Regions from separate parts of the Homo sapiens genome. Here region 1 is linked to region 2. The links come from fine-mapping of genetic effects on gene expression. A gene starts in region 2. The other region holds a variant in brackets. All regions are shown on one strand. Distances are between the middles of the regions. Region 1 overlaps TMC5 (transmembrane channel like 5). Region 2 holds the start of CCP110 (centriolar coiled-coil protein 110).

The links.
Region 1: its variant is fine-mapped to the expression of CCP110 in whole blood (INTERVAL, PIP 0.95).

The regions. Positions count from the first base shown.
Region 1 is chr16:19,447,084-19,452,464 of GRCh38, reverse strand. It overlaps TMC5 (transmembrane channel like 5), which reads right to left. Exons shown (of 22, transcript NM_001261841.2): 5 at 2,834-2,923. Among named protein-coding and RNA genes, the nearest start is that of TMC5, 32 kb to the right of the region's middle. The variant T/C (reference allele first, on the strand shown) is at 2,945.
Region 2 is chr16:19,521,644-19,527,024 of GRCh38, reverse strand. It overlaps CCP110 (centriolar coiled-coil protein 110), which reads right to left and starts at 3,083. Exons shown (of 14, transcript NM_001323572.2): 1 at 2,937-3,083. It overlaps GDE1 (glycerophosphodiester phosphodiesterase 1), which reads left to right and starts at 4,927. Exons shown (of 6, transcript NM_016641.4): 1 at 4,927-5,321. The coding sequence starts at 5,061. RefSeq lists a silencer at 4,966-5,135 and enhancers at 5,246-5,381, 4,726-5,381.

The sequences.
Region 1 (5,381 bases), 75 kb after region 2:
GATTGCAGGTGAGAGCCACCATGCCCGGCCATCCAGTCTCATTTCTACATGCTTGTCAATCATGTCTATGTAATGAAGCCTCCCAATAAAAGGCCCAAGAGGACTGGGTTCAGGTAGCTTTCTGATAGCTGAAGACGGGGAGGTTCCTGGAGGGTGGCTCACCCAGGGAGGGCATGGAAGCTCTGTGTCCCTTCCCCTATACCTCACCTAATGCATCTCTTCATCTATGTCCCTTGTAATATTCTTTGTAATAAGCCAGTAAACATAAGTTTCCCGAAGTTCTGTGAGCTGCTCCAGCAAATTAACCAAACCAAAGGAGGAGGTCGTGGGAACCCCAACTTGAAGCTGGTTGGTCAGAAGTTCTGGGGCTGGGTGCGGTGGCTCATGCCTGTAATCCCAGCACTTTGGGAAGCCGAGGTGGGCAGATCAGTTGAGGTCAGGAGTTTGAGACCAGCCTGGCCAAAATGCCGAAACCCCGTCTCTACTAAAAATACAAAAATGAGCTGGGTGTGGTGGCGCATGCCTGTAATGCCAGCTACTCAGGAGGCTGAGGCACAAGAATCGCTTGAACCTGGGAGGCGGATGTTGCAGTGAGCTGAGATGGTGCCACTGCACTCCAGCCTGAATAACGGAGTGAGATCCTTAAAAATAATAATAATAATAAAAAGAAAAAGTTCCGGCGGCCTGGACATGTGGCTGGGGTCTGAAGGAGGTATATAGTCTTGGGGACTGCGCCTTTGTCCTATGGGATCTGACACTATCTCCAGGTAGATAGTGTCAGAATTGAATTGGAGGATACCCAGCGATGTCTGCTGTAAAATTGATCGCTTTCTTGGTGTGTGGGGAGAAACCCCCACCCATTTGTTCACAGAAGCCTTCTGTGTTGATGGTTGTTGAGTAAGAGAACAGAAAAAACACTCTGAGTGTGTTTTTTTCTATACAGTCTCCAAACCTCATGCTGGCAAGACAGAGCAGTCATAACATTTAAACATATTTATTCTCCCTGATAATTAAAGCCATTCTGTGCCCCAGTGGGGACCAAATAGACAGTGTGATCATTTATATCCCAACGGTTTTCCCTTCCAAGTAGCAATATCTAACCCTCCCTGAAAAGGCATACATCTCTTGAAGGATGAGGCTAACGGTTATCTTATAGGCGATGGGGCTGAAAGGTGAGAGTTCTAAGTGGCTTCTCTCCACACGCATCATTGTATAGAGGACCTCATTACTTTATTCCTTGTTGCTCACAGATTTGCCTTGTGGCTCCAGCACTCCCTAGTCTAGTCTCTCTCCTCTGTTGCTTCATTTTTTGTTTTTGTTTGTTTGATTTTGAGACAGGGTCTCACTCTGTCACCTAGGCTAGACTGCAATGGCGTGATCACAGCTCACTGCAGCCTCAACCTCCCAGGCTCAAGCAATCCTACCGCCTCGGTCTCCCAAAGTGTTGGGATTACAGGCATAACCCCCGTGCCTGGCTTGTTGCTTCCTTTTTATTTTTCAGTCTCTGCCTCTGATTCAACCTTCATCACCACACACAGTGATCCTTAGAGAGCTTCCTAACTGATTGCAGCGCCTTCTATCTTTCACCAGTCTGACTGCTTCCACACTCCATTATCATAATAATTATATGAATATTCACAAAAACTTTGATCAATGCATCTTGTCCCCACCAACACAGGCATTAGCCACAGAATAGACAGGTGACCCAGTCTTGTCCCTTGTGGTAAAAATGATTGGCTCAAGTGTAGGCATGTGCTCCAGTTAGACTGGCCAGAGTCCTTCCCCCGCATTAGAGATGGACCCAGGGAGGAAGCAAGACTTCCTAATGAGGTGGCTAAGCAGAGGGCTCACGTGGGCCTGCTATTGGCCGTGTTCTCTGGCCTGTGGACAAGTCCTGACTCTGACGGAGATGAATGAGGTCTAACTTAAAGAGGTGCTGAGGATCCAGGACATACCTATACATACAGAACTGAAAAGCAAGTTTTACAAAGATGAGAAATGGATGGGAAACCAGAGTCCAGGTGACATTGAGTTCCCTGACCTCAGACTGAGGTCCTGATTTCTGTACTCATTCAACAAATTAATCTAACAAATATCCCTAAAATACCTACTACGTGCCAGGCACTGTACTAGGTGCTGGAAGGTACTAATACTTCTACTTTCATTTCTTTAAGTTTCCCCCATACGCTTCTACCACATGAGCCAATGAATTCCCCCTGGGCTAATGCCTGTTTGAGTTGGGTTTCTGTCACTTGCAACCAGAAGATTCCTAATGAAGACACCCTGATCCCCAGAAGACAACAAACTATACATCTAAAAGAAAACTCCATTATGATATGTTAAGCAGGTTCTGCATCAGTAACCACACTGGAGGTCAAAGGAAATGGCAATGGGTGGATTGTCTTGGACATGTTCCTTCTCCAGGGTTGACTTTTTGGTCACTGTCCTTTAAGTCTTACTGTATTAGTCTGTTTTCACACTGCTATAAAAATACTGCCTGAGACTGCATAATTTATAGACAAAAGAGGTTTAATTGTCTTACAGTTCCTCATGGCTGGGGGGCATTTCTCAGGAAACTTACAAACGTGGTGGAAGGCATAGGGGAAAGAAGGGCACATCTTACATGGGGGCAGGAGAGAGAGTGGGTGCAGGGGAAGCTGTCACTTTTAAACCATCAGATTTCAAGGGAACTCCCTCAATATCATGAGAACAGCATGGGGGAAACCACCCCCATGATCCAATCACCTCCCACCAGGTCTCTCCCCCGACACATGGGGATTACAATTTGAAATGAGAGTTGGGTGGGGACACAGAGCCAAACCATATCACTTACCTTGGGGTGACTTGTGCCAATCACATTCAGACAATGGTGGGTTTCCATAAGCATGGACAGGACCACTTTCACCTACATAAGCAGGGTTCACTGGAGGGAAGAGGAAGGAGA[T/C]ATTGCCGATTAGTCTCACCACACTAGACATTCCTGGCATGCAATAGTTATGATGTGCTAATAGTGGTTCGTAACGGCTAATAAGACTGAGACCTGGTCTTTGAGGTTCTAACAGACTACTGATTAAGAACTTGGGTGGAAACTAGGACAAAAATACAAAAACAGTGCTGTTAAATATAATCAGCCTAGATCAATGGTTTTTCATTTGACTAAGCCATAGTTAAAAATAATTGTTGGCAAGGTGAGGTAGCTCACGCCTGTAATCCCAGTGCTTTGGGAAGCCATGGTGGGAGGATTACTTGAGCCCAAAAGTTCAAGACCATCCTGGGCAACATAATGAGACCCTGTCTCTAAAAATATATGTATATGTGGCCGGGCACAGTGGCTCACGCCTGTAATCCCAGCACTTTGGGAGGCCGAGACAGGTGGATCACGAGGTCAGGAGATCGAGACCATCCTGGCTAACCCCGTCCCTACTAAAAAAATACAAAAAAATTAGCCGGGTGTAGTGGCGGGCGCCTGTAGTCCCAGCTACTCGGGAGGCTGGGGCAGAATGGCATGAACCCAGGAGGTGGAGCTTGCAGTGAGCCGAGATCGCGCCACTGCACACCAGCTTGGGCAACAGAGCGAGACTCTGACTCAAAAAAAAAAAAAAAAGAAAAAAATACATATAAACTACATGATATAAAAATAAATATATATTTTATACTATATATTTTATATATTTTTTGTATTTCTAATATATTTATTTTTATATGTTACATGTAATCTATATTTTATATGTTATATAATATAAAAATAAATATAATATATTAAAATATATATATTATCTATAAATATATATTTTAATATAAAATATAATATAAAAAATTACATTAAATATATATATTAATATATATTTTAAGACAGGTTCTCACTCTGTCACCTAGGCTGGAGTGCAGTGGTGCGATTTCAGCTCACTGCAGCTTTGACCTCCCAGGCTCAAGCAATCCTTCCATCTCAGCCTCCTGAGTAGCTGGGACTACAAGCATGCACCACCATGCCTGGCTAATATTTTGTATTTTTTGTAGAGAGGGGGTTTCACCATGTTATCCAGGCTGGTCTCGAACTTCTGGGCGGCTCAAACAATCTGCCAGCCTTGGCCTCTCAAAGGGTTGGGATTACAGGCTTGAGTCATGGAGCCCAGTAAAAAAGTGTGTGTGTGTGTGTGTGTGTGCGTGTGTGTGTAAATAATGGTTGCACTGAGATCCAGGACACACCTATACATATAGAACTGAAAAGCAAGTTTTACAAAATAATACTTTGTTTGACTATATAAACTGCACTCTAACATAGCCTTACTCTAGTCCACTCTTTTTTTTTTTTTTTTTTGAGACTTGCTCTGTCACACAGGCTGGAGTGCAGTGACGCAATCTCGGCTCACTGCAACCTCTGCCTCCCGGGTTCAAGTGATTCTCCAGCCTCAGCCTCCCAATTAGCTGGGAGAAATGGAGAAAATGGAGCACATTTTAATGGGGACAATATGCAAAATTACATTGCAAGACCTTCTGGAGCTTCTTGCCTGGGAATCAACTCCCAGCCCTGTTACTTCCTAGTTGTGCGCCCCCTGGGTGTGTGTCTTAGCATCTCTGAGCTTCAATATCTTAGTCTCTAAAATAGGGATAACAGGCTAGGTGTGGTGGTGTATGCCTGTAATTTCGGCACTTTGGGAGGCCAAAGTGGGACAGTCGCTTGAGCACAGGAGTTTGAGACCAGCTTGGGCAACATGGCATAACCCTGTCTCTACAAAAAATAAAAAAATTGGCTGGGCATGGTAGTAGTGTGCCTGTAGTCCCAGCCACTCAGGAGGTAAAGGCTGCAGTGAGCTGAGATTGCACCACTGCACTCCAGCCTGCACTAAAGAGCGGGCATTTTGTCTGAAAAATAAATAAATAAATAGGGATAATAATAGGACCTTCACATAGGATTGTTGTGGGAATTGAATCAGTGAACACATGTGAAATGATTAAATAATCCTCGAACATATTAAACTCTAATATATATTAACTGTTATAGTAGATTAATTGTTATTCAGCAAATATTACATTTCCCCTACCTTGACTACCTCCATTGATATTGGGCTTAGTCGTGTGACTTGCTTTGAACAATGGAATATGACAGAAGTGACAGTGTGCCAGTTCCAAGCCAAGGCTTTTAAAGATACCGTGTGTTTCTGCTTGCCATTTTGAGCACTTTCAGCTTACGGCATGGGAAGACATTGCCCTAGGTCACTCACTGGTCCAAGAAGAGGGACACTAGAACTAAATAGAACCCATGACGTAGAGCCAAGCACAACAAACTCAGCGTAGTTCAGCCAAATGCCAACCAACCTTGCAGACCCGTAAGAAGAAAATGCTTGTTTATTGTACGACTCTGGATTTTTGGAGTTGTTTGTTAT
Region 2 (5,381 bases):
TTAGCAAACAGTAAATGTTGATTGCTTATTTGCACAGCATTATGTGTGGCACTGTTTCCTTTAAATAAGCAAGGGAAAATAAAAAGACATTATCAGAATCATAACCAGCAAGGGTATGAACTATGGAAACAGAAAATAGAATACAATCATGTTCCTTTATGTCTTCATTTTAAAATAATTAGCTTCTTAACAAAAAAAGAGAGGGCAGGGAAATTCAATTCATGATGTGGGATATGCAAAGATGAAATAGGATATGTCCTCGGTAGGCCTCAAAGTACTTAAAAATTCAGTACACCAAAGTATCAGGGACAAATTATAGTGCAATGAGAAATGGGAAAAAAAAAATAGTCAAAATTATAATCAGGTTATAAAAAAATAAGATATAATGCTATTTTTTCTAAATAGTTTAATCAATAACAAAACTTCTTCCTACTATTCAATCAATTGTAATTATTTGTGTTCAATCTATGCAAAGTAGGAATCTAATGACAAACAAATGGTTCTCTACAGTGTGAGTGAGACTATTTTACAAGCTTTTATTTATTTTAAAAAAGCAAAAGTAAAAACAATAAAACACCTTAAGGCATAGCCTTTTTTTAGGTCTAGGTTTCAACTCACATTATTTCTTAACCCCATTTCTGCTCAAATATTTTATTTTTTTAATCATGCCATGCATTCAGCAATACACAGAATGTAAATAGATTATACAAATAAAGTAATATATCTTCTATGGATACTCAAGCAAAGCATGAAATTCAATTTTAGAAGTGAGGGAAATTATTAAGGAAATATAATACTTTTATGGCCATAGTTTTATTTTTCTTTCAACATCATAGAGCTATGCCTCATTGTTTCAGAAAGTTATTCACATCCCTTAAATAGTACATATATGTCCTATATCTTGCAGATGTATAGTACTATATTATTATTACAGCACAACACAGCATATGACAACGCATTACTCATTCAAATATGAGTGCTAATATGGAGATTATACAAATTACTAGATGATCCTTAGAGCATGACTGGATCCTTCTTATTCTTCAGTCTCGGCTTGGATATCCCCTCCTCAGAGAAGGCATCCCTGATGACCCCATCTAAATGAACTCTGCCTCTATCACTATCACATTACCCTGCTGTTTCCCAATTTTCATAGCACTTACCACTATCTGAAATTATCGTGTTTATTTCCTTGATTTTTGTCTGTCTTCCTCCACCAAAATGTAAGCGCCATAAGTACAGGTACCTTTTCAGTCTTGTTCACTGAATCCCCATTACACAGAACAGTATCAGCACACAGCAGGCACTTGATAAAAGTATTGAATAAATGAATAAGAATAATAATAAGCTCAAACAATAATGTAAACCAGAAGAAAAAAAGAAGGCGGACTATACACCGAAGCTAGCAAGGAAGAGTGGAATTTAGAGAATGGAAATTTCACCATGGCTCTAGTCCCAGAGAAACTGGTACCTCTTAAACTGCAAAGGTAACCATTTAAGAAGTGAGCAGTCTGTATCCCATGATTAAGCAAGAGGACACTATGCCTTTCACACTACAATTACCACTGTCAGCAAGGTTTTATTTTAAGGGAGCCCTGACTACAAGGCTACCCCAGCCACAAATCTACTGCTCTATATCTTGCCATCAGGCATCACTGGTCCACTTCCAGTAATAATTTGTCAGCTACAGCAGGTTCAGACATGCCGTCTTCTCCATTTATACCACAGAGAACCACTGACCCTTGTGCAAATGAGCCTCTTTGCAAACCCCGTAGACTCATGGTCCTATCTGCTCCTTACCCGTGCTCTGCCAGACATGTCACTGAAAAGAGTGGTAAAAGTAACACAGAACAGATCCTGCTTTTTTTTTGCAGAACCTAGTGTTTCTTTGCCCATCAGTTCCGCCAAAGACGCAAACTTCTTGTAAAAGCGGTAAAGGGGAAGATTTCTTATTCAGATGCGTACTAGCTGCAAGTTCTTGGCAAGCCAGTTACCATCCCCACACCTGTTTCGTCCTCTGTAAAAGAGGGATGATCACGGTATCCGTCTCAAAGGAATGTTGTAAGAATTCAATGAGCTAATGCATGTAGGGCAATTAACGTAGTGCAGAACACGCAGAAAGCAACAAATAATGGGGACTGCTTTTCTTATTAAGAGGATAATGATGATGACGATTTTTAGCAGTAGAGTATGAATTCCTGGAGGGCAGCGACAGTGCTTGGTTCCCCGTAGGTTTCAAATGAAACTGAAAAATATAGAAAAGGGGACAACGGCTTCCTCATTTCCCTGTCCCTAGACCTCTCCCCGTCAAATCAATCTCGAGATGGCTGCCATTTGCCTAAACTGGGGGTAGGGAGCTTGGATCGTAACCAGAATAGAATCAAAGGGTGGGAACCATCTAGCAGCTCCAGGGGCAATCGATTACTTTATTATCCTCAAGTTTATGCCCCAGAGTGGCAAAGGCGAAGTAAGCAGCGCTCCTAGGGCCTTGGTTGTGGAAACAGGGGCTCATAAATGGCCAATGCACACCCCGGGGAAGCCTCCCTCTCCAGCACCGTGGGAGGGAGAAGAAAAACGGCCCAAACAATTTGATCACCACGATGGGGTTCTCCGGCTCTGGCCCGAGTTTTATTCACCAGGGACGGCCCCCTGCCCTCTCCCCAGCGCCCCATGCCCACCTCCTCCAGCTCCTCCGATTTAAGACTCCAAACCGAGGGCCCTCCAGGCGGGGCCAGCATCGGAGCATCACCTCAGCGCCCGGTGCTGGCTGCCCCCGGGGTCCCGCCTCCCAACAGCCGGCGCCTTTCCAGGGGGCTCGAGGCCCGGGAGCCCAGCACAGAGCCCGCCCTCAGCTTCTCAGGGCGCCAATTTCGCCTCGCCAGACCACCTCTCAGCCCGGACCCGTCAAGGCTCAAGCCCCCTCCTCATGCACACACCTGATCCCCCACGGCCCCTTCAGCTCCTCTCCCCTCGCCACGGGCCTTGTCAGGAAGCGAATGGCTCAAATGGTACTGACAGAGCGCAGCTCGGTCCGCCGCCGCCTTCTCCTCCTCCTCCCCGCCATATTACGGATCTCAGGCTGCAACGCGGGCTCCTGGCAACCGCCGCCGCTGCCACCCCGACTCCACCTCTCAGGGCCGGCACTTCCGGTGGTTGATTCCCGGGCTGTTAAAACCGTTGGGCCACCAGAACACTACCATCCCCGAGGTGCATTGCGCGCCCGCGATGGAGGACGTAATGCTTACGGCCAGCACGCTGCACGCCGGGAAACGTAGTCTTCCTTGCAAGCTAGAGACTAGAATTTATTAATAAATTTACTTATTTAGTAGAATAGGAACACCCCTCAGGGTCTGAAGCCCCCTGAAGTGTTCCTTGAAGTTGCCATTTTTTTCTTATCTGTATAAAGATAACCCCTTTCTATGCAGCCGTTAGAAAACATGTAACATTCACCAAAATATTTTCTTGTAGGTAAAAACTTGCTGAACCCACCGGGCGTGATGGCTTACGCCTATAATTCCAACATTTTGGAAGCCGAGGCGGAAGGATCGCTTGAGCCCAGGAGTTCGAGATCAGCCTGGGCAACAAAGGGAGACGGCATCTCTACAAAAATTTTAAACGTTAGCCGGGTGGGGTGGCGCGAGCCTGTGATCCCAGCTACTCGGGAGGCTGAGGTCGGAAGATCGCTTGAGCCCAGGAGGTCGACGTTGCAGTGAGCCATGATTGCACCACTGCATTCCAACCTGGGCGATAGAGTGAGACTGTCTGAAAGAAAAAAAAAAAAAGGCTGAATCCTAGATGCCAACTGGAAGGCTTAAGACATCTATCCCCTTTTGCAAATCAGTGGGAAAATGCACTAAAGGAAAAAAAGGTAACAGAAAAATCCCTGAATATTTTTGCAAAGTTCTCTACATAAAAATGTTACCAGCCCTCCAAAATATGTCCAGGGGCCCCTTTTCACTCCCTAACTCGGCTTCATGGTCTATCTCTCTTACCCTCCTTCCAGTGCCTGTTTTTGCATATGTAAAATGGGGGTTTTAAAAGTGCCTATCACAAGGGTGGTTGTGAGGCACAGTTGAGGTAACTCCTGTACAGTGCCTGGTACAAAAGCCCTTAGCAGAAGTAAGATTAGGGGGAGGAGGAGTGAAAATGTCACAAATCACTGGGGAGGCCTTTATGTCAGTCCCCACCCTGCCATTAACTGCTTAATTCACCTATCCTCAGTTTCCGCATCTATGAAATAAGGGAATCCTTAAAACCCCTTCCAGTTTTATAATCCGATTGTGCCTTCTTTGCTAGGCTCTTCCAGTCCCCCAGAATCTGGAAAATAAAGTCGATTGAAATCAGTCTCCTGATAGTAACTGTTAGGCTGTATTGAGAATGAGATAAGCATATAAAGTGTTTGCTCGTCAAGTACCTGGGACATGGTAAGTGCTCTGTAAACGTTAGGTGTACTTGCTAACTTTTATTTCCTCCCACAAGAATGTGAATCCCATAAGAGCAAAAACCCTGTAGGTCCTGTTCAACTGTGTCCGGAGCACCTGGACCGGTATTTGGCACATCTTGAATTGAACTGAACTGAACTGAATTGAATTGAATTGAATTGATAGTCTAAGCATCCTGCCTCTCCAGGTTCCCTGGAATTCAGTTTCCTCAAGGGCAGATAAAGGAGTCACTAAAATCCCTTCCAGTCCTACAGCTTTAGGATGGTTCTTATCCCTCCTTTTCTCGCCTAGGAGTCTGAACGCCCAGGTTGAAGTTCAGACCTCGGAAAACCCTAACCCACCTTAGATTTGGAACGTGAGCCTGGGGCCTGGGGCCTGGGCCCTCCCCCGTTGCCATGGAGCGGCTCCGCCCACTGGCGCTGCGAATCCCGATCCCTGATTGGCTGGGCGGCCGACTCCCTCTCTGGATGTGTCTGCTGCCGCCATTGTGCGGCGCTGGTCCCCTCAGAGGGTTCCTGCTGCTGCCGGTGCCTTGGACCCTCCCCCTCGCTTCTCGTTCTACTGCCCCAGGAGCCCGGCGGGTCCGGGACTCCCGTCCGTGCCGGTGCGGGCGCCGGCATGTGGCTGTGGGAGGACCAGGGCGGCCTCCTGGGCCCTTTCTCCTTCCTGCTGCTAGTGCTGCTGCTGGTGACGCGGAGCCCGGTCAATGCCTGCCTCCTCACCGGCAGCCTCTTCGTTCTACTGCGCGTCTTCAGCTTTGAGCCGGTGCCCTCTTGCAGGGCCCTGCAGGTGCTCAAGCCCCGGGACCGCATTTCTGCCATCGCCCACCGTGGCGGCAGCCACGACGCGCCCGAGAACACGCTGGCGGCCATTCGGCAGGTGAGACCCCCACGTTCGCGCCCCTCGGTCCTCCCGAGAGCTCGGACTTCTACTTTTCCT